Regions from separate parts of the Homo sapiens genome. Here region 1 is linked to region 2. Evidence: fine-mapped expression QTL. Tissue or cell type: coronary artery. Region 2 holds a variant in brackets; the other region holds the start of a gene. All regions are shown on one strand. Distances are between the middles of the regions.

What was found. PIP is the estimated chance that this variant, and not a neighbour inherited with it, causes the effect.
Region 1: it holds the start of LYSMD4, and the variant in region 2 is fine-mapped to the expression of LYSMD4 in coronary artery (GTEx, PIP 0.98).

What each region holds. Positions count from the first base shown.
Region 1 is chr15:99,728,343-99,736,525 of GRCh38, reverse strand. LYSMD4 (LysM domain containing 4) reads left to right here and starts at 3,089. Exons shown (of 3, transcript NM_001284417.2): 1 at 3,089-3,181; 2 at 4,519-4,808; 3 at 6,795-8,183. The coding sequence starts at 4,527. The coding sequence ends at 7,403. RefSeq lists silencers at 2,760-3,489, 3,530-3,639.
Region 2 is chr15:100,088,169-100,096,351 of GRCh38, reverse strand. The region is part of intron 15 of ADAMTS17 (ADAM metallopeptidase with thrombospondin type 1 motif 17); the gene reads left to right. Among named protein-coding and RNA genes, the nearest start is that of ADAMTS17, 250 kb to the left of the region's middle. The variant G/A (reference allele first, on the strand shown) is at 4,180.

The DNA.
Region 1 (8,183 bases), 360 kb after region 2:
ACAACCTGAGCCAGCATAAGCTCTTCCTGAGACTTGGCTGACCCCAGGGTAGAACATTCTCTGATCTACTACCAGATCCCACCACCCTTTCATCCCGCTTCCCCATACCGTGCTCTTTCTAGCTTTGTTACTTCGCTGTGAAAGGAGAACTTTCTGTCTAACTCTTGAGATGTTACAGAGCTTATGGTCAGAAGTTCTCCCCATTGCAATAGTCCCTCCCACCACCTTGCAATAATCTTTTGGAATAAACTTTATCCTAAGTCTGGATTTATTTTGTACTGGACACACTGAATGAATGAAACAACCATAACTGATCAGAAAGCAGCAATACTAATCCAGCTTTACAAATTCTGTTGTGACTTTTCTTGCCATTAGTCACACTTTGAAATTCTGACTCCTGGATTTGCCAAACCCACCGGGCCATGGCCAGGTGCCTTGGGCCCGAAGTACAGCTGGTGGCTGAGAGCCAGGCCTCTGGAATAGACACACTAGGATTTGGATTTTGGTGCTCTCAACTCAGGATTTTAATCCTTTGTCGGGATGCATTTATTTTCCCCAGATAATATGCTTTTTAATTTTAGTTTGCCTTCCCGTATCCTGGGTCAGGTCATCAGAACAGCTCTCCTAATGAGCCCACATTGAATGAGCACCTCTAGACGCCGCCACTCAGCTGGGCCTTGGAAGTTGTATGGGGACAGTAGTATTCTGGCAATAAATGACAAGTAAATGAACTAGGAAGTACTATGAAGAAACCGTGTTCTCACAGAGCACTAAGGGAGCACCTACATATACCCGCTGGACAGGGGAGAACTCACTGAGAAGATGACTTACTTTGAGGCCTGAGGCTCAGACAGTCCAGTAATGCAAGCAGCTTGAGAGAAGGAGCCTTGAAGCCTGTATTAGGTTCTCCAGAGAGACAGAACCAATAGGAGATACCTATCTATCTACAGATACAGAGTCAGGTCCTCCAGAGAGACAGAACCGATAGGAGATATCTACCTATCTACAGATACAGAGTCAAGTCCTCCAGAGAGACAGAACTGATAGGAGCTATCTAATCTATCTATCTATCTATCTATCTATCTATCTATCTATCTATCTACCTACCTACCTACCAATAGGAGATATCTGTCTATCTATCTATATATCTATTTCTACCTATAGAGAGAGACACAAAGTGAGTGAGTGAGAGAGAGGAGATTAGACTTGGCTCACACAATTAAGGAGACTGAAAGTCCCGGGACAGGTGGGTCTGCAAGCTGGAGACCCTGGGATGCAGATAATATGGTTCAGTGCAGGTCCAAAAACATCAGAACCAGGGAAGCTGATGATGTCACTCTCATTCCAAGGCCAGAGTCTTGAGAACCCTGGGGGTTAGGGGAGGGTAAGTCCTGGAGTCCAGACCATTTTGGGCTTTGTCCACGAAGATTAACAATTTGACTTTTAGTTTAAGTGGGTGTATTAGTCCGTTTTCATCCTGCTGATAAACACATACCCGAGACTGGGCAAAAGAAAGAGGTTTAATGGACTCACAGTTCCACCTGGCTGGGGAGGCCTCACAATAATGGCTGAAGGTGAAAGGTGCATCTCACATGGCAGCAGATAGAAGAAAAGAACTTGTGCAGGGCAACTTCCCTTTATAAAACCATCAAATCTAGTGAGACTCATTCGCTATCTGGAGAACAGCACAGAAAACACCTGCTCCCATGATTCAATCACCTCCCACCAGGTCCCTCCCACAACAGGTGGAAACTGTGGGAGCTACAATTCAAGATGAGTTTTGGGTGTGGACACAGTCAAATCCTATTAGTGGGAAAAGGTTTGTGAGATCTTGTTTTAATGTTTGCTTTGTTGTTTAATCTGATTGCAAGTGAGGGTTAAAAACATTTTCAACCTGTTGACCATTTGCATTGTTTGCTGAATTATCTGCTCCTGTCTCTCTGAGGTCTCCCTCAGACCTGCTGAGGTCTTAGCATCTTTCCTATTCATATGAAGTCTCTCTCAGCGAAGGATTTTAATCCTTTGTTGTGTTCAGTTTATTTTCCCTAGGTTATCTGCTTTTTAATTTTGGTTTTCCTTTTTAAGTAGAAGCTCTGAACTTTGTGCCTTAGTGTGTGAGGTTTTTGTTTTTGTTTTTTTTTGAGATGGAGTCTCCCTCTGTTGCCCAGGCTGGAGTGCAGTGGCACGATCTCGGCTCACTGCAACCTCCGCCTCCGGGTTCAAGCAATCCTCTGTCTCAGCCTCCTGAGTAGCTGGGATTACAGGCGCCCGCCACCATGCCCGGCTAACTTTTTTATTTTTTTTTATTTTTATTTTTTTAGTAGAGACGGGGTTTCACCATCTTGGCCAGGCTGGTCTCGAACTCCTGACCTCGTGATCCACCAGCCTCGGCCTCCCAAAGTGCTGGGATTACGGGCGTGAGCCACCGCGCCCGGCCAGTGTGTGAGAATTCTTCCACCACTTTTCATCTTAAGAAATCCTCGGCCACCTGACATTTGATAAACACGACTTAAGTTTTCTTGGTCCCTGTTGTCCGCATCCATGTTTTACACTCGTGGATTTCTGTTTTCTTCTCGGGGTGGGGCAATGCCTCCCCTGGTGCGGCCCTCAAAGGCCCAGGAGCGCAGATCCCGCCGCAGAAAGACCCCTCGCCCATCTGCGCCCAGCCCTTCCCCGCAGGAGGGCTCAGGGGACCCCACGCTACTGGAATCCACCCCGAGTCACAGCTACAGATCATTACCCACAAGTGGGGTCAAAGGCCTCTTTACGGGCGAGAAAGCTGCGGCTCAGCAGAAAGCCAAGCACTTTGGGAGGGAGGAGCTGAGGTGCCTTATTACTCCGAACAGACGCGAAAACAAGCCAGGGCCCGCGCGGGTAGACCTGGTAGGCGGGTGGGCGGGGCGAGGGCCACTTCCGGGGTGTGGAACCCTGTCGAGCCCCGCCCCGAGCCCCGCCCCGAGCCCCGCCCCGGGCCCTGTGGTCCCGGGATGAGCTCTCCGCGCAGCCAGGCTCGCTCCAGTGCCCGCCCAGCGCTGACTTCATTGGCTGCCTCCCCAGTCCCGCCCCCAGGGGGGCCCTGCTGATGTTCGTAGCCAATCCGCAGGCGCGGTGGCAGCTGCGGGTCGCGGGTCGCGGGTCGCGAGTCGCCGGTCGCCGGTCGCGGCGGAGCCTGGGCGCTGAGGTACCGGGGCCTGGACGAGGGGGCCGCGGTCTGGCTAGGGAGCCGCGCGGGCTCATGGCGGTACGGCGACCTGGCCTCGCTCGAGGGTTCGCGGGCGGGCCGCCCCTCCCCGGGCTCCTAGGGGGACGCTCCAGCTGGAGGGGCGGTGACCGCGACTGTCGTGGGCTGGCCCCAGGTGGCTAGGGTTGGGGGTCAGAGGTCAGAGGTTCTGCCCTCTGGAATGTTAGGGCCCCGCCCGTGGAGCCGTGGAGCCCTGGGGCCGGGCCGCTCCCCATTTTCCTGTCAGCTCTTGTTGAGGTGCCCCATCTTTTCGCAGAAGGGACTTGGAGGGAAGCGGGCCTGGAGCTGCTGCCGCCGCCCCTGAGCTCGGACGCGAAGGCTGGCCCCGTCCCCGGGCTGCCGCCGTGGTCCTGCAGGTGACCCTCAACCCCCCGAGGACCGCCGGCCGCCTCCCGCCTCCGGGCAGGCTCAGGAGCGCGCGGAGCGGGGTGTGGGCCTGTGACCCTCGAAGGCGTGGGCGGGGAGTAGGGGGTCGAGCTGGGGCCGCAGGCTGTCCCCGTACGGGCTGCTCCCCTGTGGCTCCGAAGCCACCTTTTTCTGAAGTTGTCAGCCCGCGTGTTTGAGATTTCGTTTCTGGAATCTCACGCGAACAATCTGGAGAGAGGAACAGGGGTCTTGCGGCTTTGGCTGTTGACTCAAGGGGAAAATAAAAACCAGACAATGGGGATGTAATGAATGCAAAGTGACCCGTGAGCAAACTGGACGCTTTTCTCCGGCTGACAGGCATGAGTTCTCCCCGTAGCTTGCCCCACATACTGTGAGTTAAACTGTGTCAAAGTAAGAGCAGTTTAGCCCCACAGTTCTGAGCAAGAGTCCTTAGCGCTGACCTTCTTAGTGAAGATACTTTGCAATGTGTAAAATATTGAATACAAAATTATTGTGCAAAGCTTCTGAGTTGAAGATTCTGAGTGCGCGGAGGCTGGCGGCAGCCCTTACTTGCCATTGCAAGGATCTCAACTTACTACTCTGAGAGCAAAAGTAGTTGTTTCTTTACAGATGTGGGTTTAGGGGAGACAGCTATGGATGAGGAACAGGGGCGGGGTTCGTTTTCTGCACAAAACGTATGCGATTAGAAAAAACAAAGGGTTTTTATTCTGCCTATCTTCTTCCATCTCAGCCAGCATAAGCACATTCTTTTTTTTCTGTTGATGATGTATGCTGAGTATTTGCAGCGATTAGGAAAAGGAATACTCTCTAACAAGACACTTCTCTTTAAACGAGGCGGTGGAGGGATGATTATGTCTTCTGTGGAATTAACCCTCCGGCTTGATTTTCAGTGAAGAAAATGAGGCACGAGGAATTGTTAACCAAGACCTTCCAAGGCCCAGCTGTTGTGTGTGGGACTCCGACCAGCCACGTATACATGTTTAAGAATGGCAGTGGGGACTCGGGGGACTCTTCTGAAGAAGAGTCTCACCGTGTGGTTTTGCGGCCCCGGGGCAAGGAGCGCCACAAGAGCGGTGTCCACCAGCCTCCCCAGGCGGGAGCAGGTGACGTGGTGCTGCTGCAGCGGGAGCTGGCCCAGGAGGACAGCCTCAACAAGCTGGCGCTGCAGTATGGCTGCAAAGTAAGACACCCCTCAGGGGCCCTGCCCCGCTCCGTTTCAAGGAACACGGGGAACTCACTGCAGGGTGGGTGCCCTTGCCGCCCTTCTTAACCCTGCCAGGCCGTCAGGAGAGGCCTGCTGTAGCAGCCAAGGACTCCCCTATTTAGCCAGAATTGGAATGCAGGTGGGAGTACCTTTAGTTCCCAACCCTGGCCCCCAAAGAGGGAGGGTTAGCGCATTTCTTTCTCTGCAGGGAACTTCTCCTTTTCCTGTTTTCTCCACACTGAAATTCTGAAACCTTTTTTCTTCTTTCGAGCACATTTTATTTTAGACCTAATGGGGCTGGAGATACCAGGCAGAATTTAATTCCGGATTTCTATGGTATGCTTGCTTTTCTCGCTGCTCTTATTTTTCTGAACCTTTCTTGGTGGTAGCTTACTTGACTTTTGGTAAAGTTTTACCTTCTCTCGTTTAGAACTGCATGGTCTTTTGTATGCTGTGTATCTATATAACCCTGTTTTTCTCTAATTATGTTTTCAGCATTCAGAGTGATTAACAATGGCAAAGTAAGTAGGAAAGTATTTCTAGAATTGCTGCATTTTCTCCTAGATTGCAACTGTTTCACTTTGCTAACACTGTGCTACAGATTTGTATGGCCTTCTCTAGGGGTATATAAGCTACTTAATTTAAGAAATCTCTTTCTCCTACAAGTGTCTTATCTAACAAGGTCCAAATGTCTGAAACATGTTGTGTGGGGTGTTGCGGTCTTTCAGGGAAATAAACAGGTTGGTCTCCGGGGACACATAGTGGTCTTTAAATTGTACTGACAATTATATTTGGCTCCGATAAGCAGCTTCTGCAGGCATACTGTGTGGCTTACAGAACATGGGCTGAAAAATGAAGCCTGTCCTACAAAGACCGGAATAGATGGAGTAGGCTTCTTGGTATGGTGATGTCTAAATCCGTAAAGAATATATAAAGCCTTTGATAAGTGATCAGTTTTCCTATTTGAAGTAAATAAATTTGCTCTTAATTTATTGAAGGCAGAGACAGAAAGATCTCAAGGGTCTCATGCATTAGATTCAGGACATAGTGAATTAAAAATGTCCCCTACCCCAAATCAGTTACAATAACAGCAGTTGCTGAATAATAATGGAAATGATTGATTTGATTGAGATCTGTTGGCTGTATTCACTTTCTAGTTTAAGTGGACTTAAGTGTTAAAAGTTTGGAGTTCATCTCTGATGCTTTTGGAAAGTTTTCAAACATTAGTTTGAGGGAGGGGTTACCCTTTGACTTACATTCTCCCTGCTTCTTAAATCTTCGTGTTTGATTATGAGAGGAGTTTGTCATGAACTTTGTTACTTGATAAAACTCACAGCATTATTCCTTTTTCCTGACAGTTAAGTACAGTAACTGTAAGTCACTTTTATTTAATAAGTTTACATGCCCCACAGTGTTTCTGGGAAAGAAAATGCCGAGGGCATATCTGTCAACTTTATTACAGGTAAACTGGATTTTGAGTGTGTCTGCAGAGCTGGCTGAGGCTGTGTGTTTGGTGAATGCTAACATCTGGCAGCCACTGAGTTCTGGCATGAGGGGGAAGGCAGGCAGATGGGGGCACTATTGCCTCAAAAGTGAAAGGTGGAAAAGGCTGCAACATTCCTTTCAGTGCCATGGTGGTTTCGCCCAAAGCGATTTGTTGCAGTCACACTTTAAACAGTTTAAGAAAGATCTGTTTTTCAAAACTGATCTTAAATTGTTCAAACCTGTAAATCTTTAGGAATATCTGATTACTAAACTATATATTGAGGTTGAGTGAAAGCCAAAAAAACAAAATTTCAGCCTAAACTAACTTTGTGTACAGCTGCAGTTTTCCAGTCTTCATCAGATTCGTCAGTGAAGTGGGCTTGAATCATCACCCAGAAAGATTAAGAGCCACTTTTTGGAAAGTTATTTTTAAGGAGCTCCGCATATTTTATGATGTTTATCTTCGTGCCTTCCTAGGTTGCAGATATCAAGAAAGTCAACAACTTCATCAGAGAACAAGACTTATATGCTTTGAAATCTGTTAAGATTCCAGTGAGAAACCATGGGATCCTGATGGAGACCCACAAAGAACTGAAACCCCTTCTGAGCCCGTCTTCCGAGACCACAGTGACCGTGGAACTGCCAGAGGCAGACAGAGCAGGCGCGGGCACCGGTGCCCAGGCCGGCCAACTGATGGGCTTCTTTAAGGGGATTGACCAGGATATTGAGCGTGCAGTGCAGTCAGAAATCTTTCTACATGAAAGTTACTGCATGGACACCTCCCATCAGCCACTGCTCCCGGCACCTCCGAAGACGCCTATGGATGGTGCAGATTGTGGCATTCAGTGGTGGAATGCTGTTTTCATCATGCTGCTGATTGGTATTGTCTTGCCTGTCTTTTATTTGGTCTACTTTAAAATACAAGCTAGTGGTGAGACCCCTAATAGCTTGAACACAACTGTCATCCCCAATGGCTCGATGGCAATGGGTACAGTTCCAGGGCAAGCCCCCAGACTAGCAGTTGCAGTGCCAGCCGTCACTTCTGCAGACAGCCAGTTCAGTCAGACCACCCAAGCGGGGAGCTAAGCTTTGTTTTTAAAGACTAGGCCCAGCTTTAGCAATTGGCTGTTGATGTGCCTCAGCTGTCACTGGCGATGTCCTAGGGGTGCTGCATTTTGCTTCCGGGGAAGGATGGACACTTTTCAGAAGTCACTGCAGTATTCCCAATTGCACTGGCCCTGGGCATGGCCTTACCCAGTCTAAGCTGGCAGGATCTAAAACAGCAGCGACCTCGGCCCCTATCCAGAGAGGTGCAGCAAGAGAGCCATTTCCCTGTGACATTTAGTGGACTGGCCAGTTCATAGCAGCACTGTGAGGACCCCCAAGTTGGACGTGCTCGGAGGGAAAGATTTATGGCCTCTGTCGAGGGACCTGCAGCGTGAGAGCCAGTGGCATCTGCGCGGCTTGCCTGGCTCTTGCTGTATCCTCACTTCCTGTGGAGCGGGGATTGGCTCTGAGAAGGAGTGTTCTCTGTCTGCCTGGCAAAGGTGCTGTGGAATAGGCTTGGCATGCCACCCTGTTTTAGAGAGTGACAGTTACAGTTGTAACAAGCCTACTTCATATTGGCCCCCTCAGTTAGCCTTTTTGAGGCAATGCCATTTCTAGAGTTGAAAAAGCCCTGGACCCAAACTGCGGCACTGTTGAATAAAGGGCAGTCCTACTCCTGTCCTTTTAGAGTGGCTTAGTGTGACACACAGGCATCTCCCAGGCCAAGCACACACAGGCTGCGCCCAGTTCCGCAGGAGCCGTCCCACAGCGTGGCTCTCTGGATTCTCCCACTTGTCCTCCTTGGAAGGAGCTCTTGCT
Region 2 (8,183 bases):
GTGTTGGCCCATGGGGCTGCTGTGGCTACAGTGTTTTGTGTCCTTTGCCTACAGCTATTGATTGCAGTCTTCCCTACATTTCATATTTAAGGGCTAGATGGTAGTGGATAGGTGACCTGGAACTTCAGTTTCATTTCTGAAAAGCAAGAAAGGACATTTTAGCAAGAATGATGCCTTCACGTTGCTAGTAGTGAATAGTTTGCCATGAACGGAAACAGCTCCCCACTTAGCCTGAGGTCCATGAATCACTGGTAGCTGCCCTGGGCCAGGAGCTCAGCACTTCCTGGCATCTCGCCTTCTGATGCACAGGCAGAGAAGGTGGGAGAGACACCTGCCAAATCATTTTACCTGTCGATGGAAGACGTTTGCTCTGTGTTTGAATTTTCTGTTAGTAAAAGTAGGATAACACATTTCTAAAACGTGCATGAAGCCGTACAGTCTGGAAGGTCTCAGGTGCCACTGCCAGCTGTGACTCCGGAGTACCTGAGCCTCCTGGTCCCCAGGGGCAGACATTCCTTAGCACTGTCCCTAGAGAGGGATGCCAGGATTCGGTTGATGGGCCGGCTTCATCTTTCTGCTTGCATGGTTTTTGCAGCTGCAGGCTGCTTTGTCTTACATGGGACACAACTTTCTGATCTCCTGTCCTGGAGGACAATGTTTAAGAAAGCGTCTGTAGTTGACACCTAGTGAGGGGAGCACGAGGCAGGCAAGCCAGCTGGAGAGGGAGCTCTGGCAGCCTTAGCGAGTGTGCACTCACCCCCCATCACCAGGAGAACTTGTGTTGGGAGGAAGAAGCTGAGAAACTTATTTTAATTTCCACAAGTTGCTCTGCATAGAAGCTTCTCAGTTCATTTTCCCCCAACAAGAGAACAGAAGCACATTTATGCCTCCCTGTCTCACAGAACAGCCCCGTAAGGTGAGGCATGCTCTCCTCTCCACTTTTCTCTGTGTGGATAGGAAACCTGGTCTGGAAGAAACGTTCCTTCTAGATGCCTGCGGGAAAGACAGCCTACTGCGCCAACATTTTGCAGGACCCTGTGAAAGCAAAACCAGAGGAAATGCAAATGCAAAATGAAACTTAAAAATGAAATTTCAGGTGGATTTTAAAGATGGGTACCTAGTCAGTGAGGCACGGAGCTTAGTGTGAGAAGCTGTGCCTGCCACGTGGCTCCTGAGGTCAACAGAGAAAGGAGAGGCAGGAGCAGGTTGGTTTGGGGGAAAGTGGCCTCCGTAGCTACACTGTCCAGTTCAGCAGCCACTGGCCCCTGGAGACGATCCAAACTGTAATTCATTAAAATGAAACCAACTTAAAAGTTCATCTTTCCATCTCACTGGGAAAATTTTGAGTACTCCGTTGCTGCACACGGCCAGCGGCTCCTGTGTTGGGCAGCACAGGCAGACAATATTCCCAGCATTCCAGAAGGTTCTATTGGACAGCACAGCTCCAGAGCGTTGCCCATTTCTGCTACTGGTTTTGACATACTTAATGCCATTTTCTCTATTGGTACCCCAGCTCCTGGGCTCCCATGAGAATTTGACCTTGCCTATTGCTGCTGAGGCAACATTTAGGAGCAAAACTCCTGCAGTTGGTAAAGGATTACTACTTACTGTTGGCTTTTCTTTTTTAATGGAAGCATTGGAACCCTTTGTTTATTAAATTGAACATTGTACTGAGCTCCCATAAAGAGAACTGACTACAAGTGCGTGATTCTGTAGAAGACAAGTCAGGTACAGCCAGGCCCACTCCCATCGCCAACCCTGGGCAACTCTGTATGTAGAACACTAAGGAAAGTTCTACCACACATCTAACTAACATAGGATCTCACTTCTGAGATAACCCAGATTAAGGTCAAAAGTGGTCTTCCTTTACCCAGACTCTGATCTGTATACCAGCCCTTGATTTGACCTAGGCAGACCTGTTCATCTGGCCACAGTAATGTCCTCCTCTCCTGCTCACCCCTTTCCCTTCTCCATCCACTCCGGCCTGGGCCACATCCCTGTCTGGAATGTGAGGTCAGACCCCTGTGGCCATGACAGTGAGTCCCCCATGGAAGGATGGACCATACTGGAAGCCTCCTTGGGTAGCTGCTCCCACCCTGGCTTGCAGCCTAGTGTGTGTCCTTCCAGCTGCCAAGGCACAGAAGCCTCAGCAAACCTTCAGGCAAAAATAAGCACACGTTCGCTTCACCTACCTGGACTGTCATTCTGAGTGATTGCCAATTGTCACACATTCATTTTAAGGTACACAGCAGTTTTTTGTTTTTCAAATCCTCACAGCTGGAGTCTGTGACCACGAGCCCACATCCATGTGGATTGTATATATTGAAAATCTGCCTGCAGTACTCATTTGCACAAGAATGAGTCACTGGCTGCCTATCTAGTATAGTTTCATTCAGCACAAACTTGTCATCATGGTCTGACATACTGGAATGCACTTTAGAGATACAAATGGTTACCCCCAAGCCCAATCACGCAATGGTTATTTATGCAGCATGACTACATTTTAACCGCTAGGTATACAGAAATAAGTTATTGTCCCCACCCCAGGTACAGTCGAGGGAGGGGACCCCCGGGCAAACAGACAGCATCAGCCTATGTGAGCATGAGGTGGAGGCAGCCCAGCAGGCGTGTTGTGAGACCCCAGGTTCTGGTGGGGCACCAGACCTAGGCCTCCAAAAGCTGAGGGTGGCCCCCAGCACTAAAGGACAAGTAGAAATCAGCTGATAGTGGGGGTAGGGGGAGGACACTTCAGGCTGAAGGGGAAACATATCCTTGCGAGACCCAGCATGGAAATCGTAGAAAGCCCCCAGGTCAAGAGGCATCTTGGTGACGCCAAGTGCAGCTGAGTGGGTGGATTCACCAGGCCTATCAGTTTAGATAGGAAGCTGACTTTCATCTCTGCTTGCCCCTAAAGAATGAGGGAAGGAGGAGTGCCTTATCACCCTTAACGGTGAATATCAAAGAGAAACTCCACACCAGAAAGATAAAGCGGAATCAAATGCTGGATTTTTGCCCAATTTTGTGAAGTCCTGACCCCTGCCTGAACTCCTGTGGGTCCTCTTACCAAAGTTCCTGAGCTGAGAATCCAGGGCAGACCCACACGTGGCGAAGTGTCCAGCCCAGCAGAGCCAAATCTCCCTCTCTGTCATGACAGGTCCCAGTGTGGCACCAGGGGAAGTGGCATCCTGAGTGTAGGGCGTTTATCGCCCTCCAGCCTGTTGCTTCCAAACTTTGAACAAATGAGGTCCTCAGCTACTTATCTATGGAAGGAATCAACTCAACTTGGCTATCATATTGCTTTTCTGATGGATGGGCTTCAAAATGCTCATGCCTTGGGCTGGCTCAAGACAGCTGAGTTATCTGAACCTAGTAATTTGAGTATGATGCTTTCATTTCATTAAATTGCCATTTTAACAATATTATCTTTATTCCGCCCTGCTCCTTGGCACTAAAAAGGTGGCTGGTCAGTCTCCAGGTGACCAGCCCATGGACAGCCAGGACACACCTGGACTGAAGTCCTCACTGAGAACCAGCCAAGGATACCTGTGGGCTTCGGATCCCTTTGCTTTGTGTTCTTGCGAGAACCTTTTCACGTAATCCTTAAAAGAAAGGGTGGGGTGAGGATCCCTTTTGAATGTGGATAGATCCATGTGTCACATATTTGTTCAGTAATTACCTCTAGAGCCCCTGCCACATGCCAGGTTCCATGCTCTGTGTAGTGTGGGGTGTGGAATCTCGTGGGGGCGGAAATTCACTGTTGGGGCTTATGGTACAAAATGAGGCTTCTTTACACTGTGATGAAGAATCGTAAAATGTGCACATAAACCAATTACAACGTATTTCTTTTTCTCAGTTAAGAATGATCTCTGTACGAAGGTATCCACATGTGTGATGGCAGAGGCTGTTCCCAAGTGTTTCTCATGTAAGATGCTGGATGTTACGTGTCGTCCCAGCAGTGACATGCTTGGTGTGGCTCTTGCCTGGCTCACGCGTCTGAGTGTTTTCTGAATAGAATCAATGGGAGTAAGTTGTGTGCGAAGCCATGGATAAACTCAGAGGCCATTAAATGCTTACATAAACTGACGTTGAAGACTGATTACCATCAGAAAAACTGTAAGATGAAACCAATTTTAAAGCTATAAAAGACAGAGTCAAATGGAAACGTACCCTAGCCTGCTG[G/A]GGGTAAGTTTTCTTTCCCCTCAAGCACACCGTGTGCTCTGGCAGAAAATACCTAGACATGCCAGAGAATTTAGCCTTCGCTGGCACCTTCTTCCATAGAAAAGTTTTCATATTTCAGGACTGGTGTCCCTACAGGCAGAGGGGCATTTGGTAACACCCTTCTGGTCTTCGTTTGTCTACACTGACCTCCCATTCTGAGGGGCGAACCAAGGCACAGTCTAGCCTCACGGGTTTCCCAAACAATGAGTTCTTTTCCATTAGACCCAGGAACCACCATTAGGGAGAAACGTAAGATAGTAATATTCTTGTGAATAACTTTTGTAAGAAGAGAAAAATAAAACAAATGCCTCTCCAAATATTTTATGATCTATTTACTAAACAAAAAAAAAGAACTCTGATTTCAGGGGAAAGAGTCCAAGTACACGTAGCCAGAGTTTTACCTCTAGTCCATCATGGTACCTTTTCAGTCCGATGGTTTTCTTCCAAAGATGGTTAATGCTCCTGAAAACATGAGGAAAAATGGGAGCCCCAAGACATCTCACAGCAAGTCTACTTGAGAAATTCAGACACAAATGACTTCACAGGGAAATTGCTCATAGCCTAGTAATAGTAACTCTGGAAGATTTGAGACAGGTTAAAGGTCAACATCACTTTGAAGTTCCTTCTTACTGCTGGTCCTTAGGGCAGAAATGGCATGTTCTCCTGGAACCACGGCAAAGGCATTGGATTTTATCCATGGCTTCCTCATGAAACCAAATCATGTTCCTGTAACTGGATTTCTCCTGCTTGGTGGCTGAAGCTGGAATGGGAAATCACTCCAAAGATAAAGCCTTACCTAAAATGTGAATCTACCTTGTAAATTCTGAGAGTAAATCCTACCTCATAATTATTCTTCATGCTTCGGCAGTGTGGTGGTATCTGGCATCCACATCGGGGGTATCTGGCCTGAGAGACGCCAGGGTGCTTTGGGACTTGGTGGTGGTACTCTTTCCCTTCTTGGTGGCTCTTCACACCTGCCTCAGGTGGACTTTGAGCTCTGGGTCAGAGCAGGGGTTGGAGGACTGTGAGCTCGAGGCAGTTTCCCCGGTTTGTGGACAGAGGGCCTGCCTTTCAGTTCAGGGACTGTCTTTTTCATTGGTTACCCTTTTTTTTTTTTTTTTTTGTTGAGACGGAGTCTCACTCTGCCTCCCAGGCTGGAATGCAGTGGCACGATCTCGGCTCATTGCAACCTCCGCCTCCCGGGTTCAAGCTATTCCCCCGCCTCAGCCTCCTGAGTAGCTGAGATTACTGGCATGCACCACCAAACCTGGCTAATTTTTTGTATTATTTAGTAGAGATGGGGTTTCACCGTGTCGTTCAGGCTAGTCTTGAACTCCTGACCTCATGATCCACCCGCCTCAGCCTCCCAAAGTGCTGGAATTACAGGCGTGAGCCACTGCGCCCAGCTGGTTTCCTTTTTATCATGAACAGAGAAACTTGTCGTAGGACGGTTAGCAGAGCGCATGCATAAGGACTGCCCTGCGTTGAGAGGTCACCTGAGGGTGGGCTCACTTGGGTACCGAGTCCGCCCTGAACTGCCTTTCATCAGCACCTCCACCAGGGGCACATGAGAAAAGACAGAAAACGGATGTCTTTTCACTGATGCATCCTGTGGCAAAGTTAAGCTTAAGAATAGATGTGGATACCATGCATCAGCTGCACAGGGACCTTGCTGTGGAATGAGGGAAAGGAATTGATCAGGGCCCCATCAGCTCTGTCGGATTCTGCAGATCGGTGATCCCAATGCCAAGGTTTGTTAGTTGCAAAAGTTTCCATACAACAGCAGCTTCCTTCAAGAACAGCTCATCCCCCACAAGCGGATCTTGTTTGCAGGTATGTTTGGTAGTTTGAGTGGAGATTCCTCTGAAAAAGATTCTAATCACTTTGACCCCGAACAACTTTTATCTCAGTTTTTGACATTTTACTGCCTTGGATTCCATATGCCTGGAATCCAATCACAGTTGAAACTCCCCAGAAGGAATGGATTTCTCTAAGAGAGATTTGCTGTAGAATATTTTGTGCCACAATCCTAAAAGCTGGTTTTCTTGTGGCCAGAATTTTTCAGTAGAGAAGGAATCCTAGAGCAAACACAATTTTTTTTCCAATTTATTTCTGAATTTTATTTTGTTTTTTTTTTTTTTAATTTTATTATTATACTTTTAAGTTCTAGGGTACATGTGCACAACAGGCAGGTTTGTTACATATGTATACAAGTGCCATCTTGGTGTGCTGCACCCATTAACTCGTCATTTAACATTAGGTATATCTCCTAATGCTATCCCTCCCCCCTCCCCCAACCCCACAACAGTCCCCAGTGTGTGATGTTCCCCTTCCTGTGTCCATGTGTTCTCATTGTTCAATTCCCACCTTTGAGTGAGAACATGCGGTGTTTGGTTTTTTGTCCTTGTGATAGTTTGTTGAGAATGATGGTTTCCAGCTTCATCCATGTCCCTACAAAGGACATGAACTCATCATTTTTTATGGCTGCATAGTATTCCATGGTGTATATGTGCCACATTTTCTTAATCCAGTCAATCACTGTTGGACATTTGGGTTGGTTCCAAGTCTTTGCTATTGTGAATAGTGCCACAATAAACATATGTGTGCATGTGTCTTTATAGCAGCATGATTTATAATCCTTTGGGTATATACCCAGTAATGGGATTGCTGGGTCAAATGTTATTTCTAGTTCTAGATCCCTGAGGAATCGCCACACTGTCTTCCACAATGGTTGAACTAGTTTACAATCCCACCAACAGTGTAAAAGTGTTCTATTTCTCCACATCCTCTCCAGCACCTGTTGTTTCCTGACTTAATGATTGCCATTCTAACTGGTGTGAGATGGTATCTCATTATGGTTTTGATTTGCATTTCTCTGATGGCCAGTGATGATGAGCATTTTTTCATGTGTTTTTTGGCTGCATAAATGTCTTCTTTTGAGAAGTGTCTGTTCATATCCTTTGCCCACTTTTTGATGGGGTTGTTTTTTTCTTGTAGATTTGTTTGAGTTCATTGTAGATTCTGGATATTAGCCTTTTGTCAGATGAGTAGATTGCAAAAATTTTCTCTCATTCTGTAGGTTGCCTGTTCACTCTGATGGTAGTTTCTTTTGCTGTGCAGAAGCTCTTCAGTTGAATTAGATCCCATTTGTCAATTTTGGCTTTTGTTGCCATTGCTTTTGGTGTTTTAGACATGAAGTCCTTGCCCATGCCTATGTCCTGAATGGTAATGACTAGGTTTTCTTCTAGGGTTTTTCTGGTTTAGGTCTCACATGTAAGTTTTTAATCCATCTTGAATTAATTTTTGTATAAGGTGTAAGGAAGGGATCCAGTTTCAGCTTTCTACATATGGCTAGCCAGTTTTTCCAGCACCATTAATTAAATAGGGAATCCTTTCCCCATTTCTTGTTTTTGTCAGGTTTGTCAAAGATCAGATAGTTGTAGATGTGTGGTATTATTTCTGAGGGCTCTGTTCTGTTCCATTGGTCTATATCTCTGTTTTGGTACCAGTACCATGCTGTTTTGGTTACTGTAGCCTTGTAGTATAGTTTGAAGTCAGGTAGTGTGATGCCTCCAGCTTTGTTCTTTTGGCTTAGGATTGACTTGGCGATGCGGGCTATTTTTTTGGTTCCATATGAACTTTAAAGTAGTTTTTTCCAATTCTGTGAAGAAAGTCATTGGTAGCTTGATGGAGATGTCATTGAATCTATAAATTACCTTGGGCAGTATGGCCATTTTCACAATATTGATTCTTCCTACCCATGAGCATGGAATGTTCTTCCATTTGTTTGTATCCTCTTTTATTTCATTGAGCAGTGGTTTGTAGTTCTCCTTAAAAGGTCCTTCACATCCCTTGTAAATTGGATTCCTAGGTATTTTATTCTCTTTGAAGCAATTGTGAATGGGAGTTCACTCATGATTTGGCTCTCTGTTTGTCTGTTATTGGTGTATAAGAATGCTTGTGAT